4 linked regions of the Homo sapiens genome follow. The protein of the gene in region 3 interacts with the protein of the main gene of each other region in a pairwise test. Each region holds a gene or a part of one and is shown on either strand. Other genes may lie near its edges.

Evidence for each region.
Region 1: the proteins of KLHL12 (region 3) and POLD1 interact in binary tests that used the Homo sapiens proteins (3 or more experiments, as listed by UniProt).
Region 2: the proteins of KLHL12 (region 3) and CCBE1 interact in binary tests that used the Homo sapiens proteins (3 or more experiments, as listed by UniProt).
Region 4: the proteins of KLHL12 (region 3) and RIN1 interact in binary tests that used the Homo sapiens proteins (3 or more experiments, as listed by UniProt).

What each region holds. Positions count from the first base shown.
Region 1 is NC_000019.10:50,415,215-50,418,573, reverse strand, and holds the end of POLD1 (DNA polymerase delta catalytic subunit), read right to left. Parts: intron 3,137-3,359; coding exon 2,984-3,136; intron 2,851-2,983; coding exon 2,748-2,850; intron 2,179-2,747; coding exon 2,046-2,178; intron 1,965-2,045; coding exon 1,851-1,964; intron 1,530-1,850; coding exon 1,477-1,529; intron 1,403-1,476; coding exon 1,305-1,402; intron 733-1,304; coding exon 627-732; 3' UTR 560-626; downstream 1-559. UniProt on the Homo sapiens protein: As the catalytic component of the trimeric (Pol-delta3 complex) and tetrameric DNA polymerase delta complexes (Pol-delta4 complex), plays a crucial role in high fidelity genome replication, including in lagging strand synthesis, and repair.
Region 2 is NC_000018.10:59,694,325-59,701,366, forward strand, and holds the start of CCBE1 (collagen and calcium-binding EGF domain-containing protein 1 precursor), read right to left. Parts: upstream 3,100-7,042; 5' UTR 3,019-3,099; coding exon 2,888-3,018; intron 2,386-2,887; coding exon 2,305-2,385; intron 1-2,304. UniProt on the Homo sapiens protein: Required for lymphangioblast budding and angiogenic sprouting from venous endothelium during embryogenesis.
Region 3 is NC_000001.11:202,924,067-202,931,303, forward strand, and holds the start of KLHL12 (kelch-like protein 12), read right to left. Parts: upstream 3,169-7,237; 5' UTR 3,023-3,168; intron 1,142-3,022; coding exon of another isoform or gene 1,097-1,141; coding exon 902-1,096; intron 1-901. UniProt on the Homo sapiens protein: Substrate-specific adapter of a BCR (BTB-CUL3-RBX1) E3 ubiquitin ligase complex that acts as a negative regulator of Wnt signaling pathway and ER-Golgi transport.
Region 4 is NC_000011.10:66,329,550-66,333,434, forward strand, and holds the end of RIN1 (ras and Rab interactor 1), read right to left. Parts: intron 3,861-3,885; coding exon 3,709-3,860; intron 3,204-3,708; coding exon 2,727-3,203; 3' UTR 692-2,726; downstream 1-691. UniProt on the Homo sapiens protein: Ras effector protein, which may serve as an inhibitory modulator of neuronal plasticity in aversive memory formation. Can affect Ras signaling at different levels. First, by competing with RAF1 protein for binding to activated Ras.

The sequences.
Region 1 (3,359 bases), on a different chromosome or scaffold from region 3:
GCCGAGGGGCAAGCACAAGACTCTCCCCGGGGGATGTGTGAGGTGACGGGAGGGCCGAGGGCATCTGACGGCAGTTAGAGGCTGCGGGGATAGAGATGGGAGTCGCTGGGGGGAAACCCAGACCCAAAGCCCATTGCCAGGACCCCGACGTGGAAACATCGTGGGTGTGTGGTCCGGCGGGGGATGGGGGGGTCCCCTTGGCCGGGCTGAGGAGTGGAAGCCCCGGTGCGCCTGGGGCTGCCCCAGGGCCTGGAGGAAACAGGTCAGCACCTGGAGGGCGGGGCAGCCACCAGGGTCCCCAGGGTCATCACCAGGGAGGGCTGGGCCGGGGCCAGACACCTGGGGGCCCTAAGCAGGGCAGAGAAGCGCTGGTATAAGGGTTCCTTCAGGGCCAGAGAGGAAACTGAGGCAGGCTTGGCCCACATGAACCAGGCAGCACAGGTGGGAGTCCGGGGGCTTTTGCTGAGGATGAGGGGCGGTGCGGGCCTCAGGAGGGTCCCAGCCAAGGCCAGGGCTTATGAAACCAGACAGTGTCCCCCAGAGACCACAAAGCACCATATAGCAAAAGTCCAGAACTTTATTAATTCTCCCTGGTCCCGCCCCCGCCCCATGGGATGCTTGCAAGGTCACCAGGCCTCAGGTCCAGGGGGTCCGAAGCGCCGCAGGAGCTGCTCCTGGTCTTCCAGGTCCTTCCGCACCTTCTTGCGCATGTAGAAGATGGGGCAGTCCCGGCTGCGGGTGGGGGCAGGGGCAGGGTCAGGACCAGCCAAGGCCCAGTGCCCAGCCTGGGAGAGGGGTGGGGGCTGTTCCCAGGACTTTGGTCCCCGCCTGCTGCCCAGCCCACCCGCCCCCTCCCGCAGCGGGCTGTTTGCTCAGCAGGCACGGGGGGGGTGGGGGGGGGGAGCCGATAACAGCGGGTGCCTGGCGAGGTGCAGGGCCATGGCTGGCCGTATATCACCTGTCACCTGGCGTGGGAACCCACCCCGCCTACCCGTTCCCTGGGGAAAGCCCGGCCCCGCCCTGGGGAGGGGGCCAGGCTGGCTGGGTGTGTCGGGAGGACAGCCGTTTCCCGGGCAACACTGGGTGCCGGGCGCTGCCTCCCTAAGCACCCACCCCCTCTGGGGGGCTGGGATGGGCCCATTTTTCAGACAAGGACACTGAGGCTCAGGACAGCTCACAGCTGGAAGGGGATGGGCGGGGAGGATGCTCAGGAGAGGCCTTGGAGTCAGAGGTTGGGTCCACAACCCACAGGCCTGGGAGCTGGGAAGGGGCGGGGCAGCCCAGGGTCGGGACATGGCACACACCTGGTGCAGATGACGTCCTCGTGCAGGCTGCCCTGGCAGCGCTGGCACTGCGTCCAGAGGCGCGAGAAGCGCTCCTCCAGGGCATTCAGATGGGATACCTGGGGACGGCAGCGGCTGAGCAGGGCGCCCCCGCCTCCCCACCTGGCCCCTCCTCACCTCCCGGCCCTCTCACCTCCTTCTGATACAGCTCAGACTCCCGGGGCTGGCAGAACTCACACACGGCTCCTGTGGGGAGGCGGGTCAGCCCAAGTGCTGGGGCCCAGCCAGGAACTGGGCCACCCCATCCCTGCCCACTGCCAATCCCAGCTTCTGAAAGTCCCCAGAGGCTGGAGAACAACGGAGCAAGTGTGCTGGGAAAACTCCCCTGGGGAACTCCCGGGGTGGGGGCCGAGGACCCTCTGTGGGGGGTGGAGACAGGGGCCACCCACCCAGGGGCCCTGGGCCCACTGGGTGGCAGTGCCAGCCGATGGGGTGGGTGTCTAGGATCTGGGGTGACGGCAGAGCAGGTTGAGGGCCAGTGGGGGCCCAGTGGCCAGGGCCGCTCACCCTGGTGGCTGAGCACTGTGCGGCAGCCAATGCAGCAGTTGCGGCGTTTGGCGAAGGCCAGGAGGCCGCCCACCTTGCCCGTGAGCACCGTCTTGCAGCGCGTGTGGTCCCCCCCTGCAGGAGAGGAGGCAGGTGGTGGGCCGGTGATCTCCTCTGCCCCCCCAGGGTGCCCCCAGTCCCCTGGTGCCCCCGTACGCAGTAGCACAGCCTCGGCACGGCCCTCGCCCAGGATGGGCTCGAAGATGCGCAGGAGGGGCTTGGCCAGCTGCTGCTCCAGGTAGTACTGCGTGTCAATGGGCAGGCTGTGCTCCAGCACGAACAGCGGGTCCTGCGGCCACATGGCAGTCACACCCGGGCAGCCAGGGAAAGGGCACCGGGGTGGACACGGGGTGGTCATGGGGCCTGGGGCTTAGGGCCTAGGCCTGCCTGCGGGCTGTGACATGGGGGGGGCCTGGGTCTGGGATGGGGTCGGAGGTCACGGAGTCTCTGGGCCACAGAGTCTGTAGGGCTCTCAGGTCACCACGGAAGGGTCAGAGTTCACAAGGGGAAGCAAGGATGAGGAAGGGGTCAGGAGGTCAGAGGTCATGGGGCTAAGATGTGGGTCACTGGGGGTGGGGGTAGAGCTGGAGGATTATGAATCCAAGGGAACCCCCGGCTGGGGAGCTGTATGCACAGGGGAGGGACTGGGGCCCCTTCCATAGGGAAGCAAGGGAGGGGTCAGAATAGAGGGGGGACCTCCAGAGGGGGCCGAGGCCACACCCAGGCTGCCATGGGGGGCGGTTCTCAGGGCCCCACAGGGCACGGGAGGCCCCACCCTTCCCGCAGGCCCGCCCATCTCGGAAAGCAGAAGTGAGAGCGAGGGGGCTGGGCGGGAGCAGGCAGCCAGGTGGGCCTGACCTCCGACTTCATGTAGGCGGCCACACCCTTGGCGGCACTGATGATCACGTAGGGGACGCGGTCGCCCAGGCTGGGCGCACTCCCGGGGTCCCGCTTCCTCATCCTGCGTGGAGATGGGGTGGCGGGTGGGTGAGGGCAGGTGGGTGGCGGGGGTGGGGGCGAGGGTGTAGGAAGTGGGCCCAGCTGGCAGGAAGGAGGGGGTTATTTCTGGCCAGGCCACCCGCCCCGCGCAGGACCTCTCGGCCAGCTCCACGTGGGCCTGCTTGCCGGCATAGTCGGAGGCCGCGCGGGTCAGCTCCTTGGTGATGACCAGCTGGGAGATATCGATGCGGTTGCACAGCAGGTCCGAGATGACGTCCTGTGCGTGAGCCACCGCGCCCTCAGGGTCTCTGTAGGAGAGCGGGCCGCACAGCGTCACCAAAAGGCACTGAGGGCCAGGCTGGTGCCTCCACGGGTCTCAGGGCTGGAGACCAGGATGAGCTCTTAGGGCTGAGGCTCAGGGCAGAGAGGGGCCCTTCCTACCATAGGCTGCAGAGTGGCAGAGGCAGGGCCTGAACCCACAGCTGCCCAAGCCGACTCTTTCCACTGCTTCACCACCGAGGAAGAGCTGGG
Region 2 (7,042 bases), on a different chromosome or scaffold from region 3:
ACTTACAGCTCAATTCAAAGTAACCTTTAAAGACTGGCTTCCTGGAATGCTGGTTCTTTATCTCACTTTAGTTTAACCTTTAGTTTAGTGAGGTAGGAGAGCTAACTGTTTGGTCAACTGAAAGGCCTCCATGCTCCTTTAAGGATCTGTCTAAATAGGTCTGCATGCGTCCTGGGGATGAGGACACTGGTTTCTTACAGCAGTGCTTCAAGATTTTATGCATCTCTCATTAAGACAGATTCTGATTTAAGAGATCTGGGGGCAGAGGCCCAGGATTCCAACAAGCTCCCAAAATCATGCTGTGCGGCTGGTTTCCAGATGATACTTGAGGTAGTGAGGGTATAAAGGGCTAGGACAATCAAGTCACAAACTAAGGAAAATAATATCCTCTATTCTTGGGATTCAAGAAGAGTAGATTATAGAAACAGGATAAGACCAACGGAATACAGAGAACTCTCGACTTCCATAGAGAAAATAGATCTAAAAACAAAATCTAAGATCTTTTCATATACACAAGGATCAACACCACTTTCAAGCTGAAAGCATCGTTTCCCATTCCTTTAAACAAAGTTCTTTATTCTCCTTGATATAAAATGTCATTTTTGCGAGATCTCATAGCAATTTGAGTAGCTATTAGTGAAAACACATGCCAAGGTGCTGCTAGTGTCTCCTGTTCAAAGAGTATAAAAGAAACACCACACTGCTTTAAGAAGTCTGGAAAAGATGACAGTAATGGCATTAACAAACAATCAGGCACCAAATGGTTTCTGAAAATCTAACATGCATTCTGTAACTGTCACTGATTTATGTGAAGTCCGACCTTCAGGGACTGAAAAAATGAGCAAACCATCTCAGAGACATTTCCCATGTTAAATTCGAGGCTTTATACTGTGCTGATAGGAAAACAATGTGTCCTAAGAAACACTGTGGTCGTGTGGATGAAAGACACGGCTGGAACCAGGCAAGCAATCCTGCTGCCAGCACCACCAGGTCACTTCACCAGCTCGGTGACCTTGCTCACCCAGTTAGCCTCTTTAAGTCTTAACCTGCCAATTGAACATACTCCTTTCTCCTCTACTACCTCTCTCATTTTGTTCAGCATTCACCCCCCGCACACGCCAAGAGAAAGGAGCCTTTCCTAAGCCCAAGGAGTGACTTGATTTGCCTGATTATTGTCCCTTCACTGCCAACAACAGATTTAAGAGCAGAAGTACGCGATGTAACTGATGGTGCTTTTGCACCCATAAACTGACAGCCGTGGAACCACTTGGTCTGAACCTTTGGGTATATGAAATGCTCTCACCTGCAAGAAACGCTATGATTGATTCACAGGCTACAACCTTATAAGGAATAAAACATTGTTTTCTTTCAAGTTCGTTTCTAGGGACTGCTGCGTTACCTTGTACTACTCAGTATTTATCCTGGCAACCCGAACAGAGCATGTGAGTCTCCAGAGACAGTCAGGTGTGGGCATATGATCACATTACCTTGTACAGCGCCTCTAAAACGCAGATATCCAATAAACGTTTATGGGTGCATGTTCCCCTATCCAGTGAGAGCACTGGAACAGAACCAAGAATTCAATGGTGAAAAACCTAAATCAACCCTCATCTCCAAAAGGCTGCAAGCAGAACAGTGGTTCTCTCCTTTCAGAGACAAGAACCACCTGGGGAACATTTTATAACTACCGATTCCCTAGCCCCATCCACGCTTAGTTTTAACAAGCACCCGGGTCACTCATTTAACAAATACCCAGGTGAATCTGTGGCCCACATTTTTAGAAAGACTTTTTTCCTCTGCCCCAACAATCTTTTTGTTTTCACTCAACACAACCACTCACAATCCTCCCCCTACTTTTTTGTCCAGAGGCCGTGACAGCCACACTCTGCCCCAACAGAAGGTCAGAAGACAGACAAGTGCCAAGAATTGCCTTGTTGACGCTGTACTTTCAAAACAAAACACAAATACGAAAGCAGCCACCCGTGTTTGCTATGCCCCACTGTTTACACCCAAAATCCAATCCAATCTCCTTCACAGACTTCCACACAAGTATTTCAGGGAGCGGCAACCATCCTCAGGATCTCAGGGCACACACCCTAGACGCAAAGTCAGTTGCTCAGTGTTGCTCTGACTCCGATCCAACCAACCCTCAAAGATTCGCACCGCGCGGCACGCACCCAGCAGGTTCCAGCGTAAAAGCTGCTCCGGTCCCAAGCGCGTCTCCAAACCCCTCCTTTACAGCGCCGCCTCCCCAGCCAGCCCCGGTGCGCAGTGGCGAACAGCCCGCAGAGCCCCCAGGCTTACCTGTAGCATGTGGTGAGCTCGCCTGAAGACTTCAGACACGGGTATTTAGTCGTCGCGATTTTGCTCTCTGAGCAGATTTCTCTATGAAAAAGTGCAGAGGAAATGTTCGATTCTCAGCGGGAGAGCGGAGGCGGGCAGCGCGCGCTGGGGAATCCCTGGCGCGTGGGGATCGCCAGGCTCCCCGTCCCGGCGCTCTGGGCAGGGGCTGGTCCCCAAACGCGTACGCGGGGCAGACTCCGGCCACAGGGACGAGCCACGCGAGGGTCACGACGAAGCGAACCAGCTCCAGGAGAAAGGAAGCGGGGTTCACGAGCTGTGCCAGCCAGTGTGGCACCCGGGGGGAGGCAGGAACGCGGGGCGAAGGGTATCCCTGACGCGACCCACGGATGGCAGGGCGCAAAGGCTGATACCCGGGAGCGGAGGGAAGTGTCGCCCAGGACAGCTGAGCACTCTCCTTATCCCCGGAGAAGTGAGGGCGTGCGGATCGCTGTGGGAGTGGGCGCCGGGGAGGACCGCCCGCACCCCGCGAGCCGGGCGCGCATCAAGCAGGAGCTCGCCCTCCGCTGGGGCTTGCAGCGCTTACCTGTCGCCGTCCTCCGGCTCCTCTCTGTAGGTCCACGTGTGTCCCAACGCCAGGAGCAGCAGCAGCGGACCCAGGCTCCTGCCCAGCTGGCCCCTGGCAGCTCCTCCCCGGCTCGGAGGCGGCGGCACCATCAGGGAAGCTCCCGGCTTCTTCCCAGCGCCGAGCTCCGTCCGGACCAAGCGTCCTGCTCCTCCGCGGCCGCCGCCGCCTTCCCTCTTCCCGGCAGGGGGCGCCGGAGAGCAGGGGCGTTTGCACCACCTGCACGGGGAGCAGGGGTCCGGAATATTATGGGGCTGGGGGGAAAATGAGGCTAGGAGTTGGGGTATCGGATGCAAACCCAGCAGAGAAGCAGGTAAAGGGGGTACCTGCGGTGTCCGGCTGGCGCGAGGGCCCTGAGGTTCAAGTTGTCTCGTCGGGACGTTCACGTCCGATTGACAGACTTGCTGGACTCGGCTTGGGGCTGCGCCCTCGCCTCTTCCCTCTCCCTCCTCTGGGAGAAGCGCGCAGGGTGGGGAAAGCGGGCGGTTGTTTGCATTTTGCACCAGGGTCTCACGACCGGGAGGAGGAGGAGCTGATTCTCCACCGGGGAGAAGAGGGAGGGGGAAGAGAGGGGTTAATAAGCTTCCTTCCTGTTGTCCATGGGTTTCTAAAGCCCAGGGTCAGGCCAGTGTTCGTCTTTCCTCCGTGAGGACCTACCCTGAGATTTGCAACTATCTTAGTCTTCTTTTCTCTTAGATTATGTGAGGAAGGAGGAGTTGAAAGGCTACAACGGGCCTCTCAAATTGTTCAAACCTGAAATAGCGCTATTTATATAGTGTAATCACTCTTCCTTAAAACCTTTAGAAGAAAGTTCTCTGGTTGTTTCATTGGTCAATAAACCATGCGCTGTCTTCTTCATAACTCGAGTTCGGAACAAGTAAGGAGGTCTTTCTGGGAGCCTTACATCTCCTTGTCCTGAGCGGCTTTAATACTGTTTCCACGCCGCGCACATCAGAGCTGGAAACGCCCCCCCCCATCAAATGAGACACGTGGGGGCAAATTAATTACAGGTGCTGCTACCTGCTAGTGTATGCAGCCGCGTTGATAGGTAACAAGAAAACGGAGGAGGGGGGCCGTAAATCGGCTCCCTTGACGGTGACCCTAATTGTAATTCGTGTGTCAGCAACTTAACACTTTGTTGCGCTTTAGGAGTTTTCTCAGCCTTTTCCAGAGAAACTGGGGACGTGGATGTGGCCCAGAAATAAGTTGAAAAAGGAAAAGTTCTAATGCCTAAGCTCTAAAATATGCGTGGTTCTGCATCTCACAGGACAACGAGGTAAAAAGGTGGCTTGTTCACAAGTGACCGGTGTGTAAATTGGTTAGGTAAGCACATATTTTGATATACAGAATATGCTGGTCAACTGAGAATTACCACACATATCACATACACATTGACTTTTTTTTTTTTTTGAGACGGAGTCTCACTCTGTCGCCCAGGCTGGAGTGCAGTGTCTCGATCTTGGCTCACTGCAACCTCCGCCTGCCGGGTTCAAGAGATTCTTCTGCCTCAGCACCCCAAGTAGCAGGGATTACAGATGCATGCTTCCACACCCGGCTAATTTTTGTATTTTTAGTAGAGACAGAGTTTCACCATGTTGGCCAGGCTGCTCTTAAACTCCTGGCCTCAAGTGATCTGCCCAACTCGGCCTCCCAAAGTGCTGGGATTACAGGCGTGAGCCATAGCAGCCAGCCCACACTGATATTTTTGATAGCAATGACATTGTCATTCTTCCGTAGAATGCTATGTCTTTTCCTAAGATTTTTCATATTCAAGATTTTATTTGGTTCCCACAATATCCCTTCAATCTGAGCATCTGATTTCTTAGTTCTGTGAGGTGTGTTTTTTGTTGGCTTATTTTACAAAACTTACATATTCGGAAGACCACCCACTTGATATTAAAATATGACACTGCTACTTAACACAAATGAGTTAATTTTTATTTGATAATTCAGAAGACATTTCAGGATGTTGCAAAACTGGAGAGTGATCATCATGAGGTCAGAAAAAAAAAACCATGAGGTCAGAAAAAACTGGATTCAAACTCAGGCTGTTTGGTTTCCTGGAGGAGTGATCTGAAGCAATTTACTTCTGACACTCTGTTTTCTCATCTGTAAAATGGGGAAATATCTCTCATCAATTTTTATGAGTATTAAATGAAGCAATGCTTCTATAGCATTTTGTTTATCATGCCTGGCATATGTTGAGTGCCCTGTAAACATTATTACTTGTAACGTAATTATTGTATTGCACAGAACTTTAAGTTTTTGCCTTCTAGCCTTCTAGCTTTTCACTTCCTAGATATATAGGAATCCACTTTATAACAGTTGTTTGGGTTCCTAAAGACAGACCTCACTAAGCACATGAGGAAGAAACCCCTTCTGGGGCTTATGATAATTGTATCTCTTCAGATTGTGACAAAAAAGTGTTTGATATCCATCTTGGAAGGGAGAGGCCATCTTGTAATCTGGTAGGAGGTTCTATTTTTAATTCCTTACCAATTACTGTATCTTGACAACTTGCTGTCTTTTTTCTCATCTTTACGCATTTTATTCTTCTACTGTTGCATTGTGGACGTTAGTTCTACAAGTAACAGAGCGTGGTATAGGAGATTAATTATCAGTTTCATTAAATAGTTACTAGGCCACAAGTGCAGACCTGCAGCATTTCAGGGAAAGTGATTCAGGCTGCAAAATGATAACAGCAAAACCATTATACACAGCTGTGTGGCAGAAGATTGGCATCAGAGCTGACTTTGCCACCTTTTTATTTTCAGCTCCTGGTGCTGAGTGCCTATGAGAATAAGGGGTTAGAGAAGTTGCTGGGGCCCAGCAAACAGCTCAGGTTTGCACAGGGAGGAAATCCCAACGGTGGGTGGTCAGAGCATTTCATACATTTCTGTAAGAGGTGATCTGGAGCCGAAACCTTCTGAAAAACCTTTGCCTAGAGGCCTGTAATTTCAACCTACTGCCAGCTACTGACAGCATGGGGTGCAGTGAGGAGTTGCTTGTCCGGGGAGCACTGCCAAGCCGGAAAGAGCTATGGATGGCCATATATGGATACCTGCCCCCAAAAAGCTAAATACTCCTGTAAAAGACAAAATCTGCATTGCCCAGGCTGCGGGCTGCATGGGAGATGTCAGTGCTGGGGCTGACTGGTGGGAGCCTCAAGGGTGCTGAGTTTTCTTTCCTCCCTTCTAGACCATGTGCAAGCCCAGGCCTGCCCTGTCCCCTCACCTATGAAACACTGGCCTGAGAGAACATGCCATCCACCTCTTTCATAGGAGTGTTACAAAGATTAATGATAGGGCCCTAAATGCTCCTTGGGGGAGGCCGTGTGTGATTATGTGATTATTTCTTTTCAGCATACCACTCTCTGCAAAGTTTTTCATAAAGATCTGTCAGTTTCCCTGAAACAAACCAGAGAGCAGATAGTTATACAATTTACTGTGTCCTGGGGATGTGGGGCTGTGTCTGGGGCTTTCTAGTGCATACTATGTTATAGGTTAGAATCCCTGGTAGACCAGGTATTGTTAAGTAGTACTGCTGCATGTTGCCTGGGGGTGGGGTGACTGGCTGGAGAATAGAGAGACGGCTGCGTACAAAAGTAAAGTGAAAGGAAAAAAGAAAAGTAAACACCAGGACACAGGGCAGAGAATATGCTTCTAAATAAAATCAGTTGTCTCTTCTCAGTTTTAAGGGACTCCAACATCTTATTTGAAGAAAATCAGAATATAAAGAACAGACCACCACCAACTGGGACAATTCATTTCACCATTTAAAGATTTTCCTATAAAAAGGATTTGTGGTGGCTGACAAAAAATAAACTATTGTGTGTGTGTGTGTGTGTGTGTGTACATATGTACACAAAGTGTATGTAGTATAGGGCAAAATTAGACAAAGAAATTAAGGCAAAGGAAAAATCAGGATCAAACAGTAAAATAAAGCTGATGTTATGTTAATTGGCAGGGCTGTATAAGCAGAAAGTCCTGGGCCACGTTTCAAGCAGATCACAAGTCGGTTCTCAAATTCTCAGAAGTCAACTCAGGATAATTACATGATCAGTCATGAGATTCAAGGTAACCATAAAAGAAAAGCCTATAAATTGCTTGGAAAAAA
Region 3 (7,237 bases):
GATTTGCAATGTTATTTTCTGTTCAGCTTTCTAAGAATATTCAACACAATATATTCAGCAGCCTTACTATACATTTCAAGTATTTTGTCAGGCAATTACTAAGTAGTGTTTCTTAATACTTTGTGAGCACTACCTGTATTCTCTCAAGCCAACCTTTTCCTAATTCCCTTTGTTAAGTGCTTATGAGTTAACATCCTTTCTCAGGTTATACACTCAACGCCTGTACAGCTATTCATTAAAAACTCTTCTTCCTTTCATTTGAAGTTATCCTAAAATTTACACTGATTTTCTTCACATATTGTTAGGAGGAGTGGGATGTGGTTTGAATCCTACTCCTCTCTCCTTCCTTCCTCCTTATCCCTCTGGTATTCACTTAAAAATTTTTAAACTTTAGAAGGAAAAAAGGCTGGATGCCGTGGCTCACACCTGTAATGCCAGGTGTGGCCACTCTGGGAGGCCAAGGCAGGAGGATTGCTTGAGCCCAGGAGTTCAAGACCAGCGTGGGCAACATAGTGAGACCCTGTCTCTACAAATAAATAAATAAAATTAAAAACAAAAAAAGGAGAAAAATTGGAAGACAAATTTAAGAAATAGTAAAATCCAATAGCTGACATGTGTGTTTTACTACATATTACACTATTCTAAGCACTTCCTATGTTATTTCATAAAATAATCTTCACAACAACCTTAATAACCATGTGTTACATATTACTATTATCCCTAACTTAAAGATGAGGAAACTAAGGCATAGTCATCTAAGTGGTAGATCTTATCCAGAATCTGCCAAAACATCACACTGTAAAAATTCAAAATTATATCAAACTTCCACTATTTTATTCAGTGAAATTAGACAACTAGAGTTCCACGGGTTTCATTTGTGTGGGGCTAATTTACCACTTACCTCACTAGTGAACATGGCACAGAAGTAATCACTACAGGCAGCCAGCACAATCCGATGGGCAGGGAAGTCTTTCTGCTCTACTCTCAATGTCACATCACAGAGGGTATTGCTCTTCCTGAGGGAGTTCATTGAATTGAGGATGGATTTAGCATGAGTATTTGTCATTATGTCTTTGGGGGCCATAATGCCTCCCATAAAGCAGTGCGGAGAAAGAACAAAATGGGTCCTTGGATTCTGCAACTACAAGAGGGAAAAAAAAACAATGAGCATATTCAAAGAACTAGGGCAACTGAACATATTTAATTAGCTTTACAAATTAAGAACCTAAGAGGCTTCCTCAGACCCAAACATACACAAGTTGAGGGCACTCCTATGCCTGGCATCACCACCAACCACTAGCCACTATCTAGTCCATGTAAAAGCTCTCTCTTCTTCCTCTGAATTCCTCTATCACGGAGTGTCCCTACCACTTGACATTTAATATGATCAATGCTGAAATGTAAGTAGAGATAAACAATATATGTCTTGTAAATCTTGACAAGGTTCTTGTCTCAAATGATAAACCGAAAATATAAAATTTCTTAAAGGTGTTATATTATTACTATTTAATGTCCTTAAGTAGATAAGTATTTAGAGCATACATAAAAAGAGGATCCTGCTTTATATGTATGCTTTCTATCCTAGAAGTTGCACAATAAATGTTTAGAATTTAATGTAAGAAAAAGTGTGTATTCAACTTCAACTTAGAGCAAGAAAGGCCACTCAGTAAAAATAAACTTTTTTCTAAAGAAGTATCCAAATGATATGTCTGATGACTTCCAAACATATCTGGATTTCTTCTTAAAATGAAACTTCAGGCCGGGCCCAACAGCTCACTCCTGTAATCCCAGCACTTTAGGAGGCTGAGGTGGGTGATCAGTTGAGGTCAGGAGTTTGAGAGCAGCCTGGCCAACATGGTGAAACCTAGTCTCTACTAAAAATACAAAAAATAGCCAGGCGTGGTGATGCGCGCCTATAATCCTAGCTACCAAGAAGGCTGAGGCCCGAGAATCACTTGAACCCAGGAGGTGGAGGTTGCAGTGAGCCGAGATCACACCACTGCACTCCAGCCTGGGCAACAGAGCGAGACTCTGTCTCAAAAAAAAAAAAAAAAAAAGAAACTTCAATTGAGGACCCATTACCTACACTGAATAATGGAAACCACGCAAGTTATCGATGGACTTACACTTGCTTAAGATATTGAAGCTCTTCAACAAGAGGGTATTCCTACTCTACATCTGTGAATGTCCATTACTGTTAAAGAATCGATATTGGAATCCAAAACTTTCTGAAATGATCCGGGGGGAAGGAAATCAAACTGTGGTCTCCAAAAGTCCACAAGTCACAATTAATCTTTCAACAGGAAAAATGAGATCCTAAATTCTCATCTACTTCTGTTTGTAGTTGGCATTTTACTCTATAAGCACTATAGATAATTCCTCCAACAACTCTGCAAGACCCATTTTACAGAAAAGCGGGTGATTCATCAAAGCATATGTTTTTCAAAAAGACTTAAGTCAACTTAGTTGCAACTCTAGGGGTGTAAAAAGGTCTAGAACAAATGTCCATTTACTATGAAGACAGCCCGGGGGGTCTTTTATCGTTTCCGTGTCAAAATGACAGTACCCCGGTGCAGAGTGGTCTTCCTTCTAGGGGATTCCTGCCTCAACACTCCAAGTCTCAGCATATCCTTCATCCTCACCCTTCTGAAGTGACCTATTTTCTAGAACTTTCGTTAACATCTGAATGGAGGGATTCCACTTCGGGAGATTCGGGGCAGGGAATGGGTAGTAAACTCGGGAAAGACTAAATTCTAGAGAAGGAAACGAAGTCCTTCCTCCTAATACCACCAGGCATATGGCCGCCACCGCCAGGTGGAGGTATCGGAGAGGGGCAGTTCAGGGGGAGAGTTGAGAGGGTGACCGAGGCCAGATGCCCCACCCCACTGCCAGCCTTCCTCCTCTGTTGGGCATGTCTCCCATTCCGCCTTGCAGGGAGACCAAGGATGGGGGGTAGGGCCATAACCCGGAGTTGACGGACAGGAAGGGAAGGGCTGACTGCCATCACTTCCGCGCAACTCACCTCCGCTCCCGAACCCACACAGCCGCACCGGGCCCGTCCCCAGCCTGTGGGGATGGAGTGCGGCGCGGGGCTAGCAGGCGGCTCGGGAGGAGCCGAAGCGCCGCCCAGACCCGGAGGCTCTGGAGGCTCTGGAGCCGTCCGGGTCTGGCCCCTGCGGCCGCGCGACGTGATGACGCAATGCAGCTGGAGCACCGCCCTCCCCCCGCTCCAGAGTCTGCGTCACGTGAGGAGGTGGTGTCACGTGACCTGTCTGTACCCTAGCGCGGGGCTTCTGTACGCTGCTAGGAAGCCGAATTACAAAAAGGTCGGGTGGGCAGGGAATGGTGGCTCACGCCTATAATCCCGGCACTTTGGCAGGCCGAGGCGAGCGAATTACCTGAGCTCCGGAGTTCCAGACCCGCCTGGGGATCACGGCAAAACCCCGTTTCTACAAAAAAAAAAAAAAAAAAAAAATTAGCCCGCACCGCGCCTGTAGTCCCAGCTACTCGAGAGGCTGACAGGAGGATCACTTGAGCCAGGCAGCAGAGGTTGCAGTGAGCCAGGATCGCCACTGCACTCCAGCCTGGGCCACAGAATGAGACCCTGTAAAAAAAAAAAAAAAAAAAAAATGTCCAGGCGTGGTGGCTCACGCCTGTAATCCCGGCACTTTGGGAGGCCGAGGCGGGTGTATTACTTGAGGTCAGGAGTTCGAGACCAGCCTGGCCAACATGGTGAAACCCTATCTCTACTGAAAATACAAAAAAATTAGCCGGGCGTTGTGGCACGCGCCTGTAATCCCAACTACTCAGGAGGCTAATGCAGGAGAATCGCTAGAACCTGGGAGGCGGAGGTTGCTGAGCCGAGATCGCGCCATTGCACTCCGGGCTGGGCGACCGACTGAGACTCTGTCTCTTAAAAAAAAAAAAAAAAGGCCAGGCGAGGTGGCTCACGCCTGTAATCCCAGCACTTTGGGAGGCCGAGACGGGTGGATCACGAGGTCAGGAGATCGATTCTGGCTAACACGGTGAAACCCCGTCTCCACTAAAAATACAAAAAAATTGGCTGGGCGTAGTGGCGGGCGCCAGTAGTCCCAGCTACTCGGGAAGCTGAGGCAGGAGAATGGCGTGAACCCGGGAGGCGGAGGTTGCAGTGAGCTGAGATCGCGCCACTGTACTCCAGCCTGGGCGACAGAGCAAGACTCCGTCTCAAAAAAAAAAAAAAGAAAAAAGAAAAAAAAGAAAAAACAAAAAAAAGGCTGGATGTTGTGGGGTCCGGCAGGGAGCCTGGGAATGTATCTACAGCTCGGCGATTGGCTGAGCCTGAGTTCCTCCCTACCGCTCACTAGGCAGGGCAGGCAGAGAGAATTCCAACGCTTAATATGCCAAGCATCTGATTGCAGCAAGTATGTTTTACCTTCCAGGTACTGAGGAACTTTTTGACATCGAGAAAACCCACAGAGGCCTCAAATTTATTCACGTCCATTGTCCACAATGGCCTTTTCGGGCCGAACAACGCTGCGGCGAGAATCCTCTGAGCCTTAGGATCCACAGACCTCAGTATATACTCTGCATCATAATGGGCCCTGTCATCACCACTGAATTGATTCTAAGGAAATTCTAATTGATTCAGGAAATTCTAATTTATTTTGGTGCACTTAGTGACTGAAAAGGCAAAAAGCTTAATTAGTTCAGCTTATCTGAATGTCTAGACAAATTGTGTTTGGTAATACTATTATGCTCTGTGAGCCCTTTGATTCTTTTTTTTTTTTTTTTTTTTTTTTGAGACGGACTCTTGCTCTGTCGCCGAGGCTCGAGTGCACTGGCGCGATCTCAGCTCACTGCAACCTCCGCCTCCCGGGTTCAAGCAATTCTCCTGCCTCAGCCTCTCCGAGTAGCTGGGAGTACAGGTGCACACCACCACGCCCGACTAATTTTTGTGTTTTTAATAGAGACGGTGTTTCGCCATCTTGGCCGGGCTGGTCTCGAATTCCTGACCTCGTGATCCGCCCGCCTTGGCCTCCTAAAGTGCTGGGATTACAGGCGTCAGCCACAGCGCCTAGCCCTTTGATTCTTAAGGGTACTAAAACCATAGCCAAGTGGGTAGCATTCTAAATTTACAACGTGTCCCCATCTTCCATGTCATACCTTCCTGATCTAAAACTGTCCCTGACTCACACATTGTAGAGAAGAATGCAAGATTGGTATATTATTGGGGGCATTTTGGAAATATTCGTCGATTTTAATAAAATTTTCCTTCACATATACTCGTGCACATGTAAAACGATGTATGTACAAGATTGTTAACTGCAGCATTGTTTGTAGATTAGATCAACAACAACATTAAATGTCCATTAATAGGGGACTGATTCAATAAGGTATAGTACATCCATAAAATCCAATACCATGAAGCTGTGAACAATTTATATACTCTATTATTGGTGTAAAAAGGTGGAAGATATATTCATATTTGCTTGTGTATGTGTAACATGTATTTGAAAAGACAAAGTGGTAACCTTGGTTTCTTTGGGGAAAGGAACTGTTTGGTTGTGAGACAGGGTGGGAAGGAGATTTTTGCTCTTTGTAATTTATTTTGCCTTTTGAATTTTGCTTCATATGAATTAAAAATAATGTTCAGAGCCTGGTGCGGTGGTGTACACCTACCTGTTGTCCTATCTGCTTTGGAGACTGAAGCAGGAAGATTGCTTGAGCCCCGAAGTTCGTGACCAGCCTGGGCAACGTAGCAAGAGCACGCCTCAAAATATATTTATATGTTCAATTTTTTAAAAAGTAAAAATAGGCTGGGCACAGTGGCTCACGCCTGTAATCCTAACACTTCGAGAGGCCGAGGCGGGCGGATCACCTGAGGTCAGGAGTTCCAGACTGGCCTGGCCAACGTGGCAAAACCCCGTCACTACTAAAAATAAAAAAATTAGCCAGTCATGGTGGCCTGCGCCTGAAATCCCAGCTACTCAGGAGGCTGAGGCCGGAGAATCGCTTGAACCCAGGGAGCAGAGGTTGCAGTGAGCTGAGATCACGCCACTGCACTCCAGCCTGGGCAACAGAGCAAGGCTCCATCTCAAATAAATAAATAAATTAATTAAATTAAATAAAAAGTAAAAATAATTCCTTGTTTTCAGGATGTAAAATAGTACTTTAATGATATTGCCTAATTCCTGACTGTTAAATTAAGGATTTTTCCAAATATGAGAAGGAACTTAATAATAAAAGAGGCTTTGTTTAGAGTATGCCTACTCCTTTTATTCACAAAATAAAAGATGGAGAAGTTGTTAGCAAGATTATCACACCAAAGGAACTAGTTCAGACTTCTGACTTTTTTCTTCTTTTATTTCCTCTTTTTTGTTAATATTTGTCGGTACATAGTAGGTGTATATATTTAGGGGGTACAGAGGGATTTTGATACAGGCATATAATGTGTACTAATCACATCACAGAAAGTTGGGTATCCATCCCCTCAAGCGTTTATCCTTTGTGTTAAAACAATCCAAGTATACTTTTAGTTATTTTAAAATGTACAATTCAATTATTATTGACTATACTTACCCTGTTCTATCAAATACTAGGTCTTATTCATTCTTTCTAGTTTTTCGGTACCCGTTACCCTCCCCACCTTCCCCCAACCCCCACTGTCCTTCCCAGCCTCTGGTAATCATCCTTCTACTCTCTATCTTTGTGAGTTCAATTGGTTGGTTTTTAGATCCCACAAATCAGTGAGAACATGCGATGCTTGTCTTTCTGTGCCTGGTTTATTTCACTTAACATAATGACCTTCAGTTTGATTCATGTTGCTGCAAATGACAGAATCTCATTATTTTTAATGACTGAATAGTACTCCATCATGAATAAGTACCACATTTTCTTTATCCATTCATCTGTTGATGGACACTTGGGTTGCTTCCAAATCTTAGCTATTGTGAACACTGCTGCAACAAACATGGGAGTGCAGATATCTCTATGATACACTGATTTACTTTCTTTTCTTTTTTTTGAGACAGAGTCTCACTCTGTTGCCCATGCTGGAGTGCAGTGGTGTGATCTCGGCTCACTGTAACCTCCGCCTCCCAGGTTCAAGCAATTTTTCTGCCTCAGCCTCCCAAGTAGCTGGGACTACAGGTGCAGGCCACCATGCCTGGCTAATTTTTGTATTTTTAGTAGAGACAAGGTTTCACATATTGGCCAGGCTGGTCTCAAACTCCTGACCTCATGATCTGCCCACCTC
Region 4 (3,885 bases), on a different chromosome or scaffold from region 3:
CATAATCTTGTTGATGCTGATTTGGCCTGGACCCCTGACCAATCAGTTTCTTTTTTGTTTTCTTTTCATTTCTTTTTTTTTTTTGAGATGGAGTCTTGCTCTGTTGCCCAGGGTGGAGTGCAGTGGTGTGATCTCGGGTCACTGCAACCTCTGCCTCCCGGGTTCAAGTGATTCTCTTGCCTCAGCCTCCCCAGTAGCTGGGACTACAGGTGTGTGCCACGACGCCTGGCTAATTTTTGTATTTTTAGTAGAGACGGGGTTTCACCATGCTGGCCAGGCTGGTCTTGAACTCCTGACCTCAGGTGATCCACCGGCCTCGGCCTCCCAAAGTGTTGGGATTACAGGCGTGAGCCACCAGGCCCAGCCCAGAGTTTCTTGAGAAGAAAAACCACAAGACCCAGGCAGCAGCTCCCTGTGGTGCCCCATCACTGGGGAGGGCAGGGAGGGGGTCAGGTCATGCTGAGCCTGGCAAGGGTGGGAAGGGCTTGTAGAGGCCCCAGAGCCTCATTCCCATGAGGCCAGTTGTACATCCGGCCCCTGGGATCCTCCGAGCACCCTCTACAAACATTCCAGGTCCTTCCTCTGGGACTGAGCTTGACACATCCCGTGTTTGATTCCCAGAACCGAGTCCTCCCTTATACTCCCCAGGTTTCTGCCTCACTGTCCCTCACTCCTGGTTATCAAACTCCAATCAGTGAACAACATTTATTGAACACCTATGGCATTTGTGCTCAGCATTGGACTGTGTGAGGCACTAGGGGTGAGTGGTGAAACAGGGAGGGGAATAGAAGAGCCAACGGGACACTTCCTATCAGCGAGAACCTTGGGAGGGCGTGGAAGTGGGGAGGGAAGAGCTGCTGGTGGCCTAGTGACAAAAAAAATGGGAGCCGTGCAACTGGGCTGTATCTGGACTGCTCATCTGAAAGTCAATGTCTGGCTGGGTGTGGTAGCTCACGCCTGTAATCCCAGTACTTTGGGAGGCCAAGGCGGGCGGATCACCTGAGGTCGGGAGTTTGAGACCAGCCTGGCCAACATGGGGAAACCCCGTCTCTACTAGTAACACAAAAATTAGCCAGGTGTGGTGGTGCACACCTGTAGTCCCAGCTACTCGGGAGGCTGAGGCAGGAGAATCACTTGAACTGGGAGGCGAAGGTTGCTGTGAGCCGAGATGGCACCACTGCACTTTAGCCAGAGCGACAGAGCAAAACTCCATCTCAAACAAACAAACAAACAAAAAAACCCAAAAAGCCAATGTCCACGATTTCTACCTCCCAGTTGTCATGTCTGACATTTGGGCTGACGTCCCCTCTGTGCTCAGTGCCCGAGGAGAGAGCCTCTGGGGTCATCCTCCATAAGGGGACAATTCCTTCCTTCCTGGGGATGGCCCCCAAGAGGCTGGCCTTACCCAGACCCCAGAATCTAAGGGACCTGGGGGCCAGTGGCCTTGGCCCCTGCGCTGTCCCCAGGTTGCCTGATGCTGCTGGACTGCAAGGCCCGGGACCCCCTCTGCTGCTGCAGCCTTGGAGGCGCCCTCACCCCTGGGTGGTCACCCTCTCGGCAGATTCCCGGGCCGTGCACACCCCCTCGTGGTTGGTGGTCGGCACTTTTCCTTGTTTGGATTTGCTGCCTGCTCTGGGCTTCCTTGGGGGCTGCCCCGGCCTTTGTGGGTGGCTTAGAATGGAGGGTGGAGTTGGAACCTGATGCCCTGGTTTGGGCGGGGGAACCCTTAAGGACTTGCTATATGACATCCTGGGAGTCACTTTCCTGACCCTCAGTGGGCCCAACAAGTCATGGCCAAGTAAAGCTTTTGTGAGGGCCAAGAGTTTAGTGCAGAGAGCATGGTTTCTGAGCCCCCTCTCCATTCTGGAAGCTTATCTGCCAGCTGGTGGATCTCCCCAGAGATGCTGGAGGGCCTGGGAGGACTCCAAATCTTGGGGAGAGACTGTAACTTGGGTACTTTCTCCCCAGGGCCTGATTTCCAGGGGAATAACCTCCCTGAACTGGGCATCAGCAGGTGGGAGCCCTGTCTGGCAGAGAGCGGACTCCGGGAGAGAGTTAGCAGCCCAGCTCTCTCCCTCCCTTTCTGCCATGAGCTCTGCTTGTAGCAAAATCACCCATTTTGATCACTGGGACACTTCTGGGAGCCGAGCAGGGCAGCAATAGTGTCCCCACTTTACAGATGAGAGTACTGAGGCTTGCAGGTGCAGGTCCTTCTGGTGTCCAGGACAGGGGTGGGCCCCAAGCCTTTGCTGCTGTTCTGTGGCCTCTCTAAATCCTCCTGACACCTAAGAGCCATTGGAACCTTTTAGGGTCTGGAAGTCCCAGCCTGGTGGGAGATACTTGGGTGGAGCCCTGCCTCAGCCATGCCCATGAGGGGAAGGGTAAAAGGAGCTGAGACCGTCACCCTCCCCACGTCAGAGGTTGGGCATCTGTCGGATTCGCCCCCACTTGGCACACCCTCATTGCAGGCTGGCTCACCCTCAGCTGGGGGAGAAGAACAAGAGGCAAGGGGCCTTGGGCACACAGTCTGGGGGCCCCCGAAGCCCCCTCATCTTTATTCCAGTTCCTCAGATGTGGCAGTTCCCCCAGCTTCCCTGGAAACAAGTATCAGACAAAGGTGGTGGCAGACACAGGACAGGGCCCTGGGTGGGGCTTGCTGGCGCTAAAAGGATTTCTCAGCAGGCTCAGGGTCTCCCGCCCCGAATGACCCTTCTGGCCACTTCAAGCTACTCCTCTGCTGCCCGGCTTCCCTCTGCCTCTGGTTCCCCTGGCTGAGCAGGGCCTTCCTGGGCTTGACCCTGGCCCCCTTCAGCAGTTGTCTCAGACTGTTCCCGAATGTCCCTGGGGCTGGCTTTGACCCCAGCATCCCCATCTCCCTGGCACCCTTGCTCCTCCCCTCTGCTTCTTGCCTCTGACTGCCCACTGCCCTCCTCCTCTGTCACAGCCCCCTGGGTCTCAGGCCACTCCGCCCGGCGGTAGACGAGGTAGCCAGTGGTGGGCAGCCTGTGGGCCAGGGCCCCAGGGGGCAGGCGGTGGTAGCCCTGCTCCTTGTACAGGAAGAGGCCAAAAGTGTTGGGCTGGGTCACTCGGAACTTGGTGGCACAGAGCTGGTTCAGGGTGGCAATCGAGGCTTCTGGGGGCACGGCCAGGGTCTTGGAGGTGCAGCCACTGCTGGGATCCTGATAGGCTACTCGGAGGAGGTGCTATGCAGGAGGAGAAGCAAAAACAAGTACTCAGCCCCGGCTGGCATGCATCTGGCTCCAAAGCTGAGACATCAGCTTTCTGGGCTGTGCAGGGACAGGGTGGGTAGGTGGAGATCCAGTGGGAGAACCAAGCGGCAAAAGCTCTATGTGCTCCAGGGGTCGGCTTGTGGGCCACAGCCGCAGGTGCAAGGACAGCCCAGTGGGGCGCTCACAAGCCTGAGATGAAGATTTGATAGTGAGTAATTTGTGCCCCAAGCACTCTCCTGCATTAACTCATTTAATCTTCACCTCAACCCCAGGAGGTAGGTCCTATTACCCCATTTTACTGATGAGAAAACTGAGGCACGAAGTAGTTAAGTAACTCGCCCAAGTCCCCACAACCCAGTGGCAGAGCCAGGATTAGAACCCAGGATCTGTCTACAGAGTCTGGACTCTTCACCAAGGACAGGAAGGTGAAAGGCGGGGATGGCGTCTGGCTCTGAGGACACGGTGGAGGGCCTGTTACCTGGAAGCAGTGGGTGGCAGGCAGGCGGCGCTGCTCCCAGAGGCTGAGGGAGCGCCGTAGCTCCTGCACGGGGCTCAGTGGGAGGGTGTGGGCCTGACCCAGGCCACTCAGCAGGGCCAGGCTGGCAGAGAGGCTGGTCAGGTAGTAGCCACCTGGGACACAGGGTGGAAGAACACG